4 linked regions of the Homo sapiens genome follow. The protein of the gene in region 1 purifies or fractionates together with the protein of each later gene. This does not show direct contact. Each region holds a gene or a part of one and is shown in the gene's direction. Other genes may lie near its edges.

Region 1 (4,025 bases):
TAGTAGAGACGGGGTTTCACCATGTTGACCAAGCCGGTCTCAAACTGCAGACCTCGTGATCCGCCTGCCTCAGCCTCCCAAAGTGCTGGGATTACAGATGTGAGCCACCGTGCCCGGCCAGAAATTTTTGTTTATTTGAGTTCAGAAAACAAGTGGTTCAGGAAAGCAATGAGAATTACTCTGACCCAAGATGACATTTATACAGCAGGCTGTAAAATGTCAGCAGACCAAATCCTAGCAGGAGAATGGAGCACTCCCCAGAGGCTCAGTAGAGCAAGAAAATGACTCATACATTAGATAATTTGTTTAAGACAGAAAAACATAAGGCTATGATTAAGCCAAAGAACGTCAGGGATAAAAATGAAAGGCAATTAGAAACGCCACTAAAAACAGAAAGTTGTGTAAGTGTACCCTGTTAGCTGGGCACGGTGGCTCATGCCTGTAATCCCAACACATTGAGAGGCTGAGGCAAGAGGATGCTTGAGCCCAGGAATTCTAGACCAGCCTGGGCAACATGAGGAAACCCCATCTTTACAAAACACAAAAATTAGCCAGGCATGGTGATGTACACCTGTGGTCCCAGCTGCTTCAGAGGCTGAGGTGGGAGGATTGAGCCCATGAGGTAGACGCTGCAGTGAGCCATCTTCATGCCACTGCACTCCAGCCTGGAAGACACAACAAGACCCTGTCTCAAAAAAAAAAAAAAAAAAAAAGGCCCTGTTAGCAAAGGACTAGGTGCTACAGAGAAAAATATTTACATTTTCGTAGTAACGTAAATAATGACATTGGGCCGGGCACGGTGGTTTACATCTGTAATACCAACACTTTGGAAGGCCAAGGCACGTGGATCATCTGAGATCAGGAGTCGAGACCAGCCTGGCCAACATGATGAAACCCTGTCTCTACTAAAAGTACAAAAATTAGCCAGGTGTGGTTGCACATGCCTGTAATCCCAGCTACTCAGGAGGCTGAGACAGAATCACTTGAACCTGGGAGACGGAGGTTGCAGTGCACCAAGACCGCGCCACTGCACTCCAGCCTGGGCCACAAGAGCAAAACTCCGTCTCAAAGATAATAAAAATAATGACATTGGTTTTCGACTTTTAGAATCACCCTATAGACAAAGCATAGAATGATATAATTTTTAAATTATAGGGAAATAAAACTTGGACTCAAAAAAGGGAGGTTGGGAAATGGTTAAGTGAGCTTGGTTCTCCTTGCCATAGCAGGGCTTAAACAAAAGTTGATAAAACAAGAAATAGCAGTATAAGAAATTACCCTGGCCGGGCGCAGTGGCTCATGCCTGTAATCCCAGCCCTTTGGAAGGCCGAGGCGGGCGGATCACCTAAGGTCAGGAGTTCAAGACCAGCCTGGCCAACATCGTGAAACCCCGTCTACACTAAAATAAAAAAATTAGCTAGGTGTGGTGGTGCACGCTTATAAGTCTCAGCTACTTGGGAGGCTGAGACAGGAGAATCACTTGAACCTTGGAGGCGGAGGTTGCAGATCGCACCACTACACTCTAGCCTGGGCAACAAGAGTGAGACTCCGTCTGAAAACAAACAAACAAAAAAAAACCTACCCAGGCCGGGTGTGGTGGCTTATGCCTGTAATCCTAACACTGTGGGAGGCTGAGGTGGGTGAATCACTTGAGGTCAGGGGTTCAAGACCAGCCTGGCCAACATGGTAAAACCTCGTCTCTACTAAAAATACAAAAATTAGCTGGGCCTGGGGGCAGGCACCTGTAATCCCAGCTACTGGGGAGGCTGAGGCAGGAGAATCATTTGAACCTGGGAGGAGGAGGTTGCAGTGAGCTGAGATCCTGCCACTGCACTCCAGCCTGGGCAACACTGAGGCTCCATCTCAAAAAGAAAAATACATCTACCCAGAGAACTGAAAAGTCAAAGGGATTGATCATAGGGAGCCTGGATTTCAGATGGAGTTAAGGTAGGACAGAGGAGCACAACTTCTCATTATAAGCCCCTCTATGCTTTTTCATTTGTACATCGTGGTTATTCCTCTGGTTCAGTTTCTAAAATTGCTTTTTTAAATTGGGAAGGCCTTTGGTGGTAACTGTGAGGTAGAAGCCAAGGAGTGTGAATCCTACCCTGCTGCCAGCTTGCTGGCAGAGCCCACAGGATGACTGCTGGCAACTGCTGATGAAGGAGAGGAAATTGCCTGGAGGTCCTGGGGACTGTAGGCAAGACAAAGGGAATTGGTAAAGGAGAGATGGAGGCCTAGGCTGGGCCTGCACAGTGAAGGGGCCACTTAGGATGTCTTCTTGCCACGTGGTTATTTTATGTAGTTTTTAAATATACTCAAGTTGACATAATTTTCATTAAAGCACATGGGAGCTGAATTGAGAAGTTTGCTCAATTCTGCTTAAATAAACAAATTAGGCTGTGTGCAATGGTGCATGCCTGTGATACCAACACTTTGAGAAGCCAAAGCAGGCAGTTCGCTTGAGCCCAGGAGTTTGAGACCAGCCTGGGCAACATGGGGAAACCCCATCCCTACAGAAAATACAAAAAATTAGCCGGGCATGGTGGCATGTGCCTGTAGTCCCAGCTACCCAGGAGGCTGAGGTAGGAGGATCACCTGAGCCCTGGAGGTTGAGGCTGCAGTGAGCTGTGATTGCGCCACTGCACTCCAGACTGTGCTACAGAGTGAGACCTTGTTTCAAAACAAAACAAAACAAAACAAAATTACAATGTAAAGAGTTGTATAAGGGCAACTTGCTGTTGCCTTTTTAGGGAATTTCTATTGTTTTCCAGATTTAAGGCAGAATGAAACATAACTAGCCAGTTATTGAAAATTGATTTATTTATGGATTTTCAGAATTTCCTTTGCCATATTTTCCCATTTTATGATCTCCAGCATTGTTTGCACATTGTTTTCATTACTGCACTTTGTTATAATTCATCATTTATACCATCCATATTCTTTCTTTTCTTACAGATTGTGATATCTTTAGTCTGAATTTTTAACTGGAATCAGAACTGGATGTTGGGGTCACTCTTTGTTTTATTGTACCTCGTGATTACCTAATTCAAAATTGCCCCCCAAAAAGTCAGATTAGTTAATATAATTTTTTAATGTTAAAGATGTATCGTGGTAAAAAATTTACTCTAGCAGCCATGTTGAACAATGTATTTAAAAATTGTAAACTCTTGGAATACTGTATTTATCTGCTATTTCAATATAAAGTCCTTTGACTTAGTCCTGGTAACTGTACAGTAATTTGGTTTACTAATGAAAGTTGTGAATAAAACTGTGAAACTAGAAGGGAGACTTTCTGGACTTTAATAGAAAAATGTGATTTTAAGATTGCTTTTTCTTTTGTTTTAGCGTAATTTTTCCCTTTATATTCCCCTCATCAATGTAAATAAACACACACACACACACACACACACACACACACACACACCTTTCACCACAATGGTAATGCTTCTGTAAATGCCTCTATTTGTCCAGTTGGCTGAAAATGTTGTAATCTTTATTAGACAAATATATATATATATATATATATATATATATATATATATATTTAAATATTGGCTTTTTCCAGTGAGCTATTATGTTTAGTGTACAGTGAAAAGTTTTAATATTATAGGTTAAAATTTTCTTAATCGTTCTTTTCTATTCGCTTGCCAAGGGTGAATGAAAGAACATGGCTGCTTCTCCCAGACTGACTGACCTTGGCATCCGCATAAAGCATCATTGTTTTCAAAAATGAAGGGTGCTTAATTGTTCCCTTTTTTCTATATTCTGTAGGTCTCATAACAACAAACTGCAGTCTACAGCTTCTTAAAGTTCAGCGTGTTAACCTAACATAAAACACAGCAAGAATCTGGTTGTCTGAACTATTTTAAATTAAGGAGCCAGATGTTTTTAGTCAGGCTATCCTGACAAGACTTGACCTAAACTTCGTTTTTATTGGTCATAACAGTCCAATTATATTCTTGGCCAATTTTGTCCAACGGACAAGAAAAAAGCAAAGTCAACGACACCATTATCTTGTCAAG
Region 2 (4,025 bases), on another chromosome or scaffold:
ATTGTGGGTACTGGATTGCTGTGTAAAGTGTACTTCTTACTGTGTTTTGTAGTCAATAAAGTTTAAAAACTATTGTACTCATATTTTCTCTTAGACTCAGAGGAGAATCTTTTTCTGTTTATTCTCATTTGTAAAATGACAATAATGAGAGTTGCTACCTTATGGGTTTATCATGAAGACTAAATATATATAAAGTATTTAGAACAGTGCTTACCTTGCGCATAGTAGGTGCTCCATAAATACTAGCTGTCATTACCAGGAAAACAATCTTAGAGCAAATGCTTTGTTTTAATCTTAATGCACATTAAAGACATTTGTTGTTAATGATGTCCTTTGCTTTGGCTTCCAAGAAAAAGCAGCTGAGATATATATATATGTATATATATATATTTTTTTTTTGAGACAGGCTCTTGTTTTGTTGCCCAGTCTGGAGTGCAGTGGCACAATCACAGTTTACTGCATCCTTCATCTCCTGGACTCAAGCAATCCTCTCACCTAAGCCCTCTGAATAGCTGGGACCACAAGCATGTGCTACTATGCCTAGCTGATATTTTAAATTATTTGTAGACACAAAGTCTCGCCATGTTGCCCAGGCTGGTCTTGAATTCCTGGGCTTAAGTAATCCTCCCGCCTCAGGCTCCCAAAGTGTTGGCATTACATGCGTGAGCCTGACCTTCAGAGATCAATTTATGGCCTTTTGTCTATCTTCTATTAGCCCTGATTTGTCATCTTAAACTTTCTGTTGCATCTCTGCAGGGAGCCCTCAGATTCTTTCTGGGATATCAGAATCATCAAAATATGATAATTTAATTCCATTGTAACTTCAGAGATATTTTTATATTCATTTACTGTGCCAGGAGGGGAGGTAGAGGCTCTTGGGAACATTTACTGCCTGTTTAAACTGTACATTAACTCAGACACCCAGAGTGGTTAGTTTCTTAGCTTTTTACTAGATGGTTGAGTCCAATATGGAGAAGAGGATTTTGATAATAGCATTAGCTGTCTACCTTACTGAACAAGTTTGTTGGCCTAATCAAACCTACGCTTTGGGGAACTCTTAAGTTACAGTAGATTTCCTCATAGGGAAACTCTATTAAATCTTCTTAAGCAATGAAAGAAAAAGCTGTCCATTAAGAACTTTCGTGGAATAATATGGTTCAATATTTTTTTCCATAATGTGGCATCAGAATAATATTAGATTTTTAAATTATTTGTCAGTGTTAGATATTATGTGCTTTTTGTTGCTGTGGTACATACTGTGTGTCTTATCATAAAACATTTTGGAACAAAACGGTAAGCTTAATTTATATGATTAAAGTAAATCAGTTTATGTGGTTAAAAAATACGGGCACAAGGAGATGTTTTGAAAATGTGGAGAATTGTAATTTTCTGAACTCCCTTTAGGGATATATACTTGTTAAGGCTGATTTCTCAGTTATATGTTTTTAGAAACATAGTATTTGCCATTTTGAATCTTTAGTGATTAAAAACAATCAATTTAAAGTTGAAAAAAACTAATTAGACTTCTGACCATATTTAAGGTACATTTTAAGAGGTGAATACTTCCATGTGTCCCAGACTTTTTGAAAACTAGAGATCCTCAGAAATAAATGGTAAAAGACAGGCTATAGAAAATTTTCCCCTCAACAGGAAAGTTATATCTAGATCTAATTTTTACCACTTTTAACAATTTGGAGAATTTGCTATCTGACTTGCAAGTCCAAACAAATTTGGTAGAATTTGTTCTTGATGGGAATAAATTTAAAAATGCAAAGGAGAGAGTCCAGTGATTGGCAAGAGAAAATAGTAGAAAAGGAAATAGAGCGAAAATAAAAATTTTGACAATGGAGGGCAGCAATTAACAGAGAGGAAATTACAGCCTCAGAATGCACACCTGTATTTAGTAGGATGTTGGAATATGAAATGTTTGTATATCAGAGGGCTGATGGCATGTGCTTTGATAATGCAGTCATGGTAGGCATAGCTTTGCAATTTAAATTATAGGGAAGAAATGGAAGCAATATTTGTTTTATTGTAGAGATATTTGGATTTTTGTAACATGTGAATATTAAGATCTTTCCCCAGCTGTATTGGAGGATATGTTAATCCTCCAATGAAATCATTCATGATCTTTGGGATCATGAGGAAATCTAGGAAGTCAGTGACTCAGGCATAAAATTAGAAAGGCTTGAACATTTTTAAATTGTACTAAAGTTATAGAGAAGGGAAGTCTTAAGTGGGCAAGGGATGGTAAGTGGGAACTGACTATGTACTTGAAAACATTTCAGATGTCATGATGTGCTTTTTATAGGGCTGTCTTTGTTAGCACAAAATAATTTGTGGAGTGTTTCAAGGTCTACTTGAGATAAACTCTTACTAACTCATGATTTCCAGAAAAGCCTTAAATTCCTCAAAGGTCTTGCTGGAAGGAAACCTAGCTCAAGGGGAGGGGAGGTCTATAGTCTTTGGGATTAGAAAGACTCAGGTTTGAAAGTTAGTTTTGCTATTTAATTCATGCTTGTGTCAGTGATTTCACTTTGGACCATGGCTTGTCTCTAACAAGTATACAGTAATTTTTCAGTTTTTGTGAAGTTTAGATATAATGGGTTTGGCATCCAACCTATGGTAGCTGCTGTTATTTGTCATTTTAGGAGCCTAATCTAGTGACTGTGGAAGGATCTATGGTATTTTAATTGTTTTGCTTCTATAAAGTTTTAAAGGCAGTATTGTTCAGAACTGAAATATAGATGAAGAGAAATTCATCTAATTTGCATCCACTTTTCATTGCCTATTTCTCCAAGTGACTTCTATATCATCTTAGGCATGCATACTTTTGTAAAGTCCTTTATCTGCATAATAGCTTTTAACATTATTTTATTTAAAATACAACTTACTAGGTTTTTCTCTTAAATTTATAGCATTGTTTTATGATAGACTATTTTTCCATATCCTTATAAACTTTAAAAAGATTGTAGAGGTGAGGCGGGTATTTAAATATTTGAATTTTTCTATCTAAATGCAAGTTATCAGAAATGGCAAACTGGTTCCTTTTTTATGTTTTTTAACACTTGGAATATATCACAAGGAAAATATCTTGTGTATGTTAAAATGAGCATTATTTTCAGGCCTTTTTGGGGAATATTTAAAGTTTCTGTAATAGAGCTGTAGTATGTGTTACAATTGTAGTGGTCCCAAAATTTCCATTTGTCTAGCATTTGCTGTCTTATTTAATTTCACAAAGATAAATTTATTTGGAGACTACTAAAACTAGTAAGTGTAGAAGAGCTCTACAGAGACTTAAAACTTAACATTATGATCATTGTTGGGTATGTTGGTTCTAGCTTGTTTATTAATAAAAATTTTTATGACAATGCAAAGTAGTGAGCTTAAACTCAGGGATATTTTTCAATGTGTATTGTGATCTGGTTTTATTTTAAAATTTATTGCAAACACATTTTGTTTTTATTTCTCACTGCTTTTATTATTTTTTAAGCATCTAATTAGGTGAAACTGAATTGATTCAATTTTTATGTTACAGGAGATTACCTGGGGCAATTGATGTTATCGGTCAGACTATAACTATCAGCCGAGTAGAAGGCAGGCGACGGGCAAATGAGAACAGCAACATACAGGTTTAGTATTTTAAAATAAATAATTTTCTTTAACTGAAGGATGATATCAACATTATAATTTAATTTATTCAATAGATAGTCATAGTGCTATGCTGTGTTTTAGGTGATACAAAGAGATTTAAAATGTGAAGCCAGTCATTTATTATAAAGGCATTTCCAGTTAGAATTTATAATCTCTGAATCTTTTTTTAATAGGGTTTTCTTTCTTTTCCTTGGTAGAAACATAGTACAGGTTGAGTATCTCTTATCTGAAATGCTTGGGACCAGAAGTGTATCAGATTTTGAAATGTTTGGATTTTGAAATGTTCATACGTATGTAATCTTAGAGATGAGACCCAAGTCTAAACATGAAATTTATGTTTCATAAATAAGTTATTTAATTTGTTATAATGA
Region 3 (3,694 bases), on another chromosome or scaffold:
GGCCTGCTAGTCAGACGCTGGGGCCAGCACCCGTCGTCTGCATAGTTTCTAAGCTCTTGGATGTTTTGATGCTCAGACACACTGGGAATTCTGTTCCGGAGGAGAGACTGCTCCCTGTGAGGAAAGCCAGGGAGGGGATGGGTTTTTGTTGTTGTTGTTGAGACAAGGTCTTGCTCTGTTGCCCAGACTGAAGTGCAGTGGCGTGATCATAGCTCACTGCAGCCTCCAACTCCTGGGCTCAAGCGATCCTCCCACTTCAGCCTCCTGAGTAGCTGGGACTACAGGCATGCACCACCACACCTGGCTAATTTTATTTTTTTGTAGAGACAGGGTCTCACTACGTTGCCTAGGCTGATCTCAAACTCTTAGGCTCAATGATCCTTGGCCTTGACCTCCCAAAGAACTGGGATTACTGTGCCTGGCCCGGGGTGGGTTCTGAGCGGACTATCTTACCCGCAGCCAGCTGATTCAGTCCGCCCCGGTGTCCCAGAGAGCACCCCTCCATCACTCTCTGGGGGTGGCCTGGCATCTTTTGCAGCAGGGGAGGGATGCAGTTTCCACTGGGGCCCTCTGGAGATGAATGATGAAGAGGGCGCCTTGGCCGAGCCTGTCCCTGTCCTCTCTGGCAGCCTTGCCAACATTCCACTAACCCCCGAGACTCAGCGGGACCAGGAGCGGCGGATTCGGCGGGAGATCGCCAACAGCAACGAGCGGAGACGCATGCAGAGCATCAACGCGGGATTCCAGTCCCTCAAGACCCTCATCCCCCACACAGACGGAGAGAAGCTCAGCAAGGTGGGTGAGAGCAGGGAGGGCTTCCTGGAGGAGCCGGCAGGTTCCCGCTGGGAGAGGAAAGTGAGCTCTGGTAAACACTGCCAGCCTGACTCTCGGCTTTTCCACGCCCTCAGGCAGCCATTCTCCAGCAGACAGCCGAGTACATCTTCTCCCTGGAGCAGGAGAAGACCAGGCTCTTGCAGCAGAACACACAGCTCAAGCGCTTCATCCAGGTGCGCCCTGTCCTTCATGGCTCCCTCTCCCTGGCATGGGCATGCCTTGGACCCAGCCATGGGCCTGGGACTCAGGTGTGGCTGCAGGCCCCTTCTTGCCCACTGACAAGTACTTCCAGGCACTTTTTTTCCTGCCCCGGCCTCAGTTTCCCCATCGGTCAAGTGCGGTGGAGTGGGCTCTGGAAGGAGCCAGGTGACTGTTATGTAAAGCAGCCCATTCTCCTGGCATTTGGCTGGTTTGTTGGACTTGCAGAAGGGGCTCCCTAATGAAGATTCACCTGTGTTGGGCAGCTTTGGGGGGCTGCGATGGAACCCCAATCTCCGTGGTGGTACCGAGGTGTCAGGCACACTGACCGACTCCTTGGGGTCCCCAGGAGCTGAGCGGCTCGTCCCCCAAGCGACGGCGGGCAGAGGACAAGGACGAAGGCATAGGCTCCCCGGACATCTGGGAGGACGAGAAGGCGGAGGACCTGCGGCGGGAGATGATTGAGCTGCGGCAGCAGCTGGACAAGGAGCGCTCGGTGCGCATGATGCTGGAGGAGCAGGTGAGGCAGCGCCCTCTGCTGGGCACGGCGCGCGGTGCAGAGGGCGTGGAGCCTGGGGTCGCGCCTCTTGCTCTGCGGCCCTCGGTGGAGCCCTATTTACAGGAGCACCTACTGCGGTGCCAGGCCTAGGAGTGGGGAGCAAGCCAGACACGTCTCTGCCCTTGGGGGCCACCGTCTGCGTTGGGGTGGGGGAGATTAGCCAAAGGATCTCAAAAATGTAACCATGCTGTGGGAGGCCGAGGCGGGTGGATCACCTGAGGTCAGCAGATCGATACCATCCTGGCTAACACGGTGAAACCCCGTCTCTACTAAAAATACAAAAAAAAAAAAAATTAGCCGGGCGTGGTGGTGGGTGCCTGTAGTCCCCGCTGTTTGGGAGGCTGAGGCAGGAGAATGGCGTGAACCTGGGAGGCAGAGCTTGCAGTGAGCCGAGATCGTGCCACTGCACTCCAGTCTGGGAGACAGAGCGAGACTCCATCTCAAAAAAAAAAAAATGTAACCGTGATGGGCTGGGTATGGTGGCTCACACCTATAATCCCAGCACTTTGCGGGGCTGAGGTGGGAGGATCGCTTGAGCCCAGGAGTTTGAGATCAGCCTGGGAAGCATAGTGAGACTCTGTCTCTACCAAAAAAGATACAAAAATTAGCCAGGTGTGGTGGGGTGTGCCTGTAGTCCCGGTTACTCAGGAGGCTGAGCTGGGAGGATTGCTTGAGCCCAGGAGGTGGAGGCTGCAGTGAGCCATGATTGTGCCACTACACTGCAGCCTGAGTGACAGAAGGAGACCATGGCTCAAAAAAACCAAAAAACAAAAACAAAAAACCATATTGAAGGCCAGGCTGGAGCTGTGGCATCAGGAGGGGTTTTTCAAGGGACGCCCCACGGCATCTCCATGGAAGTGGGAAGTTGAGTCTCATAGTTAACCAAAGGACAGAGAAAGGTGTTCCCGGCAGAGGGAATAGCATAGGCAAAGACTCGGGCAGGAGGGAGCATGGTCCAGTGGAGGCCGAGGTGGGAGGCGAGAGGAGCCGGGGGCTGAAGGGCTCTGGAAAGGCTTCTGGCCTCTGTTGAGAGGGGCCCGCCCTGTGCTAGGGTTTTCAGCAGGAGTGAATGAGCTGCTGTGAGACTGACAGGGCAGGGTGTGCTCCCGGCCTTGGCCCTGAGCCCAGGTTGTCCTGCCTCCAGGTGCGCTCGCTGGAGGCCCACATGTACCCGGAAAAGCTCAAGGTGATTGCGCAGCAGGTGCAGCTGCAGCAGCAGCAGGAACAGGTGAGGCTGCTGCACCAGGAGAAGCTGGAGCGGGAACAGCAGCAGCTGCGGACCCAGGTGAGCAGGAGGCGCCCGGGAGTGGGCTCTGGGGACCGGGAAGGGGACAGGTGATCTTGAATGGCGGAAGCCTCTCCCTAGGCCACGTCCTCTCTGCTTCTTAATATAAAGGGGCAGAGGCAGTTATACATTGGCCAGCTCTGCATGAAAGGGAGGTGGATGGGCCAAGAGAAGCCTTGAGAGAAAGGCTGAGGGCCTCTGTCTTGCAGCTTCTGCCCCCTCCGGCCCCCACCCACCACCCCACGGTGATCGTGCCAGCACCGCCTCCTCCTCCCTCCCACCACATCAATGTCGTCACCATGGGCCCCTCCTCGGTCATCAACTCTGTTTCCACATCCCGGCAAAATCTGGACACCATCGTGCAGGTACCTGAGCTTGAGAAAGGGGCAGCTTGTGGGGGTCATACTCCGGGAACAGGCTCTTTAGGGGAGACTGGAAAAGAGGGGCAGAAGCGGAGGAAGATGGTGCTTGTGTGGGAAGGGGTGGAGGGCTGGAAGCCTTGGGGGGCCCCGTCCCTGGATCTGCAAGTGGAGAATGTGAGGGCCAGAGATCGGGGCAGGGCCTACCACGCCAGTAGGAGGAGTTGGCCAGGAAGACTGTCCCTTCCCTCAATATGGGGTTTCCGGAGAGGGTCCTTTGCTCCCAGAGCCCCCTGGTTACAGAGTTCCTGCATCCAGCTCTTGGGTTGGTCCGGAACATTGTCTCAGCTCCATCTCCTAGGACCTGGATGGAGATACAGGTGGCAGGGCTGGTGATAGTTGGGCCTCCTACAGAGGAGGAAGCTTTGTGGGTCAAGCCTGAAGTTACAGTTGCATTCA
Region 4 (4,025 bases), on another chromosome or scaffold:
CCACTGCGCCCAGCATAAGATTTTTTCCTAAATATTTTTGTGCATTTATTTTTCCATGTAGACTTTAGAATCAACTTGACTAGGAAAAAAAAATCCTGTTGGCATTTTGACTGGGATTGGACTAATATTATAATTTATGGGAAATGATATATATAGGTAACATTGAGACTACCTAAGAACTGATTGTAGTTCCACTTAGTTCATAGTATTTCACAGTAGACTTAATTTTTTTCCATATCAGTCTTGCATGTTTCGTAAGTATATTCCTACATATTTAATTTTTTTGTTTATGTCCATTTTTGTGCTGTTATAAACAGGATATAAACTCTTATGGCCTGTCCAGTTATTATTTACATATAGTGATTTTTTTGAATCATGGTTTTTGTATATCAACTTTGTATTTACCCATTTCATTAAATTTTCTTACTGTTTTTAATTGTTACAGTTGATTTTCTTGAGTTTTCACCTACAAGGAAATGGTAGTTTTATCTTCTTTCTAAATTTTATTCTTCTTACCTGATTGGCCAATTCCTTCAAAACAGTGTTATGAAATAGTGGTGGTAGTTGAAATCTTTGTCATACTAGGTTAGTGGTGGTAGTTGAAATATTTGTCGTTCTCATCGTCTTTTAATATTACGATACTGGTTTTTGGGTTGGAGTGGGGAGAAATGTTTTATTAGGTTAAAAAAGTATCCATCTAAGCTGGGCGCTGTGGCTCACACCAGTAATCCCAGCACTTTGGGAGGCTGAGGCAGGCAGATTACCTGAGGTCAGGAGTTTGAGACCAGCCTGGCCAACATGGTGAAACCCCATCTCTACTAAAAATACAAAAATTAGCTGGGTGTGGTGGCGTGCGCCTGTAGTCCCAGCTACTTGGGAGGTTGAGACAAGAGAGTAGCTTGAACCCGGGAGGCAGAGGTTGCAGTGAGCCGAGATTGTGCCACTGCATTCCAGCCTGGGCAACAGAGCAAGACTGTCAAAAAAAAAAAAGGCAATAATCAAAAATAATCGGAGTGTTTAAAACAGCAACAAAATTCCATGTTGAATATCAGTGAATCAGTGAACCTTTTTAAGTACTTAAACATAATTTACCTTTTGCAAATTTATTCAGGGTTATAAATGTTCATTTTTACTTAATGGAGCCATAAATTAATCTCTTTTTTTTATTGTATAGAAATTTACAGCAACAATGTCAACACCAGATAAGAAAGCTTCACAGAAGATTGGTTTTCGATTACGTAATCTGCTCAAGCTTCCTAAAGCACATAAATGGTGTATATACGAGTGGTTCTATTCAAATATAGATAAGTATGTATCATGGCTTATATTATGAATATTACTTGAATCAGAAATTTAAGTTTTTCAAGTGTTTTAAGCTACAACATTTTCTATAGGTCTACTTTGATCTTATTTTTCTCTAAATTCATTTTTCTGTTCCACATTCCAGTTGGATCTATTCTATTTGTCATAGTTTTCTTCCCTGTTATCCTTTTTGGGGAAGAAAACTGTACATTTTTGTGAAGAATTGATTACGGTATAATTTCTGTGTTAGAATTCTTAAAGACTATGGAGTAGAGATACCTTAAAACACCATTATTTGCAGTGAATGAGATTCATTTTATAATTGAGATGTTAAGTGCTGGTATAATCATAGAGAAACCATTACTAATGGTAAAAATGGCTTAAGATTTTTAAGAGGGTAGTCTTTCTAGTTTGGATGTGGTACTTAAGCACGCTAGGTATACACATATGCTTAAGTATGACGTAGTATGAGATTTGGCTGAAATACAATTATTCAACAATGGAATTTACTGAGGAAAAGTTCTTATTTATAATCCTTCCTCATATGCCAGTCATTGCTGCTTGCTCTGCTGGATATTTATATTTTCTTCCCTTCTCTGTTTTCTATACCAATTGCCTACTCTGGAGCTTGTGAATCTCATGAATGTTCATATTTGAGCCCAAGGCATTTATGTATCATTGCCAACACTGGTTCCTGGTTTCCCAGACTCATGAATAGAATTGTTTTATTTTTGTCCATAGGCTTAAGAGAGTTTTCAGGGTGTCTCAGTGTAATCTGAGTTCTTCTGGGATCCCCCAAGCTAATCTAACCCTCTGGAGTCCTCCAGTGTCCCAAGACTGGTTTAATTCCAAAGAGGACTCCTTGGTGATGGTATTCCTTTGGGACAAAGATACTTTGTAGCTAACTTGGTTTATCTTCACCTGATACAAGGCCAGGGCCACGATAGCCTCCCAAAGGATATACCTGTATAAGAGATTGAACAAAAATCAGTGTCTCTTGGAATCACAACACAAATAATATTTCCTGAGCAACTTTTACACGACATTAGATGTTTCACAAATGCCAAGGATTTAGTTTTAGCACTTTGAATTTGTGCCAGTTTATATATATATATGGGGTAGAAGTGAAAGTTTAGCATTTTGTGATTTTATGTGTTTTAAGAAAGTAACACATTGTATGTAACCATTAAAATACTATATCTGTTTTACAGACCACTTTTTGAAGGTGATAATGACTTCTGTGTATGTCTAAAGGAATCTTTTCCTAATTTGAAAACAAGAAAGTTAACAAGAGTAGAATGGGGAAAAATTCGGCGGCTTATGGGAAAACCACGGAGGTAAAAATAATGTTTTTGTTTTTGTTTAAAATAAAATCAAGCCAGTAGCAGTGCATGTACTTATAATCCCAGTTACTTGGAAGGCTAAGATGGGGTATTTGCTTAAGGCCAGGGGTTCAGGGCTGTAGTATGCTGTGATTACACCTGTGAATAGTCACTGCACTCTAGCCTGGGCAACACAGTGAGACCATTCCTCTAAAAAAGAATTAAAAAATAAAATCAATAAATAATAGTTGTTAGTATCATTAGTACATTGATTTTTTTAATCTTTAAAATGACTAGTACCAAAACATAACTTTTCAGAATAATTGATTATATGTTAAATATATCCTGTTAACCAACTTTAATGTAGGTGCTGTTTATACGTATGCATCTTATAATTAAATGCACAATTTCATTTTTGTTAGGATCACAGGTTTTCAACGTAATTTTTTAGTTTTACATTATCTATGTCCCTCTGTGTTCCAAAAAATATTTAAGAATGTCCTAAAAAGTATTTAAGGATGCTGTAAAGTTCTGTGTACATTTTTGTTATCTTTTGTGAAATCCTTTATAATCTCAGGAGCCTTCCCAGAAGTGCCTATTTTATTTTATATAAAAGTAGAAAACAAATTAATCTATCTAATATGTTACTTCCTGAGAATTGCTCTTCATGTGAAATGATTTTTTCTTTTCCAGTGTTATCCTGGTAACACATTGGAAAACCTTATATTACTTTTGAGTGAAAATTGGAAATATGTTAGAAGAATAATTAGATCATTAGTTCTCACATTATGTCTATCTGCCTGGTAAAAAGTATGTGCAAGACTTTTTCATTTTAAATGGTGGGAAAGTTCAAGGAAGGTCTGTAAATATAAAGTGATTTGGACAAATAGAAATGGAATTTAGATTTAATGATTTCTTTAGATGGTGATGAAATACAGAGAGAACTTTTAATTAAACTGTCATCAAGATGACCTTGATGATGATGTTTTTAATATTTCTTATAATAACAAAATTAAAATTTGATATGTTATTTAGTGTGTTTCATACTCATAATTTATGGCCTTTGGTAATTACAGTAGCCATTTGGTGACTTTTTGCTATCATTTTGCGTGTTTGAGCAAATTGAGTTACACTGTTTCTAATTATTGTCCATCAGAGTGGGATATTGGTCACTATTTACTGTTTTGTCATAGTTCTGTAGTTTGAGTGTCATAATATTTCTCGTTAATTGATCTTCTATTCTCTTACCATAACATTATTTAATCTTATAGTCCTTTAATTCATCAAGGTTAATTAATAGTTGAAGTCTTTTTTCAATAAAATGTGTAGTTTTTCTTTCTTTGAGGAAGTCCAGGTATAATACAAATTATTGATACAATAAACCTTAAAATATCTTAATTT

What was found. Proteins that work in one complex are often made in the same cells at the same time.
Region 2: the proteins of BPTF (region 1) and FIP1L1 fractionate together in Homo sapiens (co-fractionation; one large-scale study listed by BioGRID). This does not show direct contact.
Region 3: the proteins of BPTF (region 1) and TFAP4 fractionate together in Homo sapiens (co-fractionation; one large-scale study listed by BioGRID). This does not show direct contact.
Region 4: the proteins of BPTF (region 1) and LIN9 purify together in Homo sapiens (affinity purification with mass spectrometry, with the first as the bait; one large-scale study listed by BioGRID). This does not show direct contact.

Annotation. Positions count from the first base shown.
Region 1 is NC_000017.11:67,978,478-67,982,502, forward strand, and holds part of BPTF (nucleosome-remodeling factor subunit BPTF), read left to right. Parts: intron 1-2,958; coding exon of another isoform or gene 2,959-2,965; exon of another isoform or gene 2,966-3,774; coding exon 3,775-3,811; 3' UTR 3,812-4,025. UniProt on the Homo sapiens protein: Regulatory subunit of the ATP-dependent NURF-1 and NURF-5 ISWI chromatin remodeling complexes, which form ordered nucleosome arrays on chromatin and facilitate access to DNA during DNA-templated processes such as DNA replication, transcription, and repair.
Region 2 is NC_000004.12:53,422,334-53,426,358, forward strand, and holds part of FIP1L1 (pre-mRNA 3'-end-processing factor FIP1), read left to right. Parts: intron 1-3,538; coding exon 3,539-3,632; intron 3,633-4,025.
Region 3 is NC_000016.10:4,259,637-4,263,330, reverse strand, and holds part of TFAP4 (transcription factor AP-4), read left to right. Parts: intron 1-629; coding exon 630-795; intron 796-908; coding exon 909-1,007; intron 1,008-1,381; coding exon 1,382-1,552; intron 1,553-2,735; coding exon 2,736-2,876; intron 2,877-3,085; coding exon 3,086-3,241; intron 3,242-3,694.
Region 4 is NC_000001.11:226,284,947-226,288,971, reverse strand, and holds part of LIN9 (protein lin-9 homolog), read left to right. Parts: intron 1-1,174; coding exon 1,175-1,308; intron 1,309-2,513; coding exon 2,514-2,639; intron 2,640-4,025. UniProt on the Homo sapiens protein: Acts as a tumor suppressor. Inhibits DNA synthesis. Its ability to inhibit oncogenic transformation is mediated through its association with RB1. Plays a role in the expression of genes required for the G1/S transition.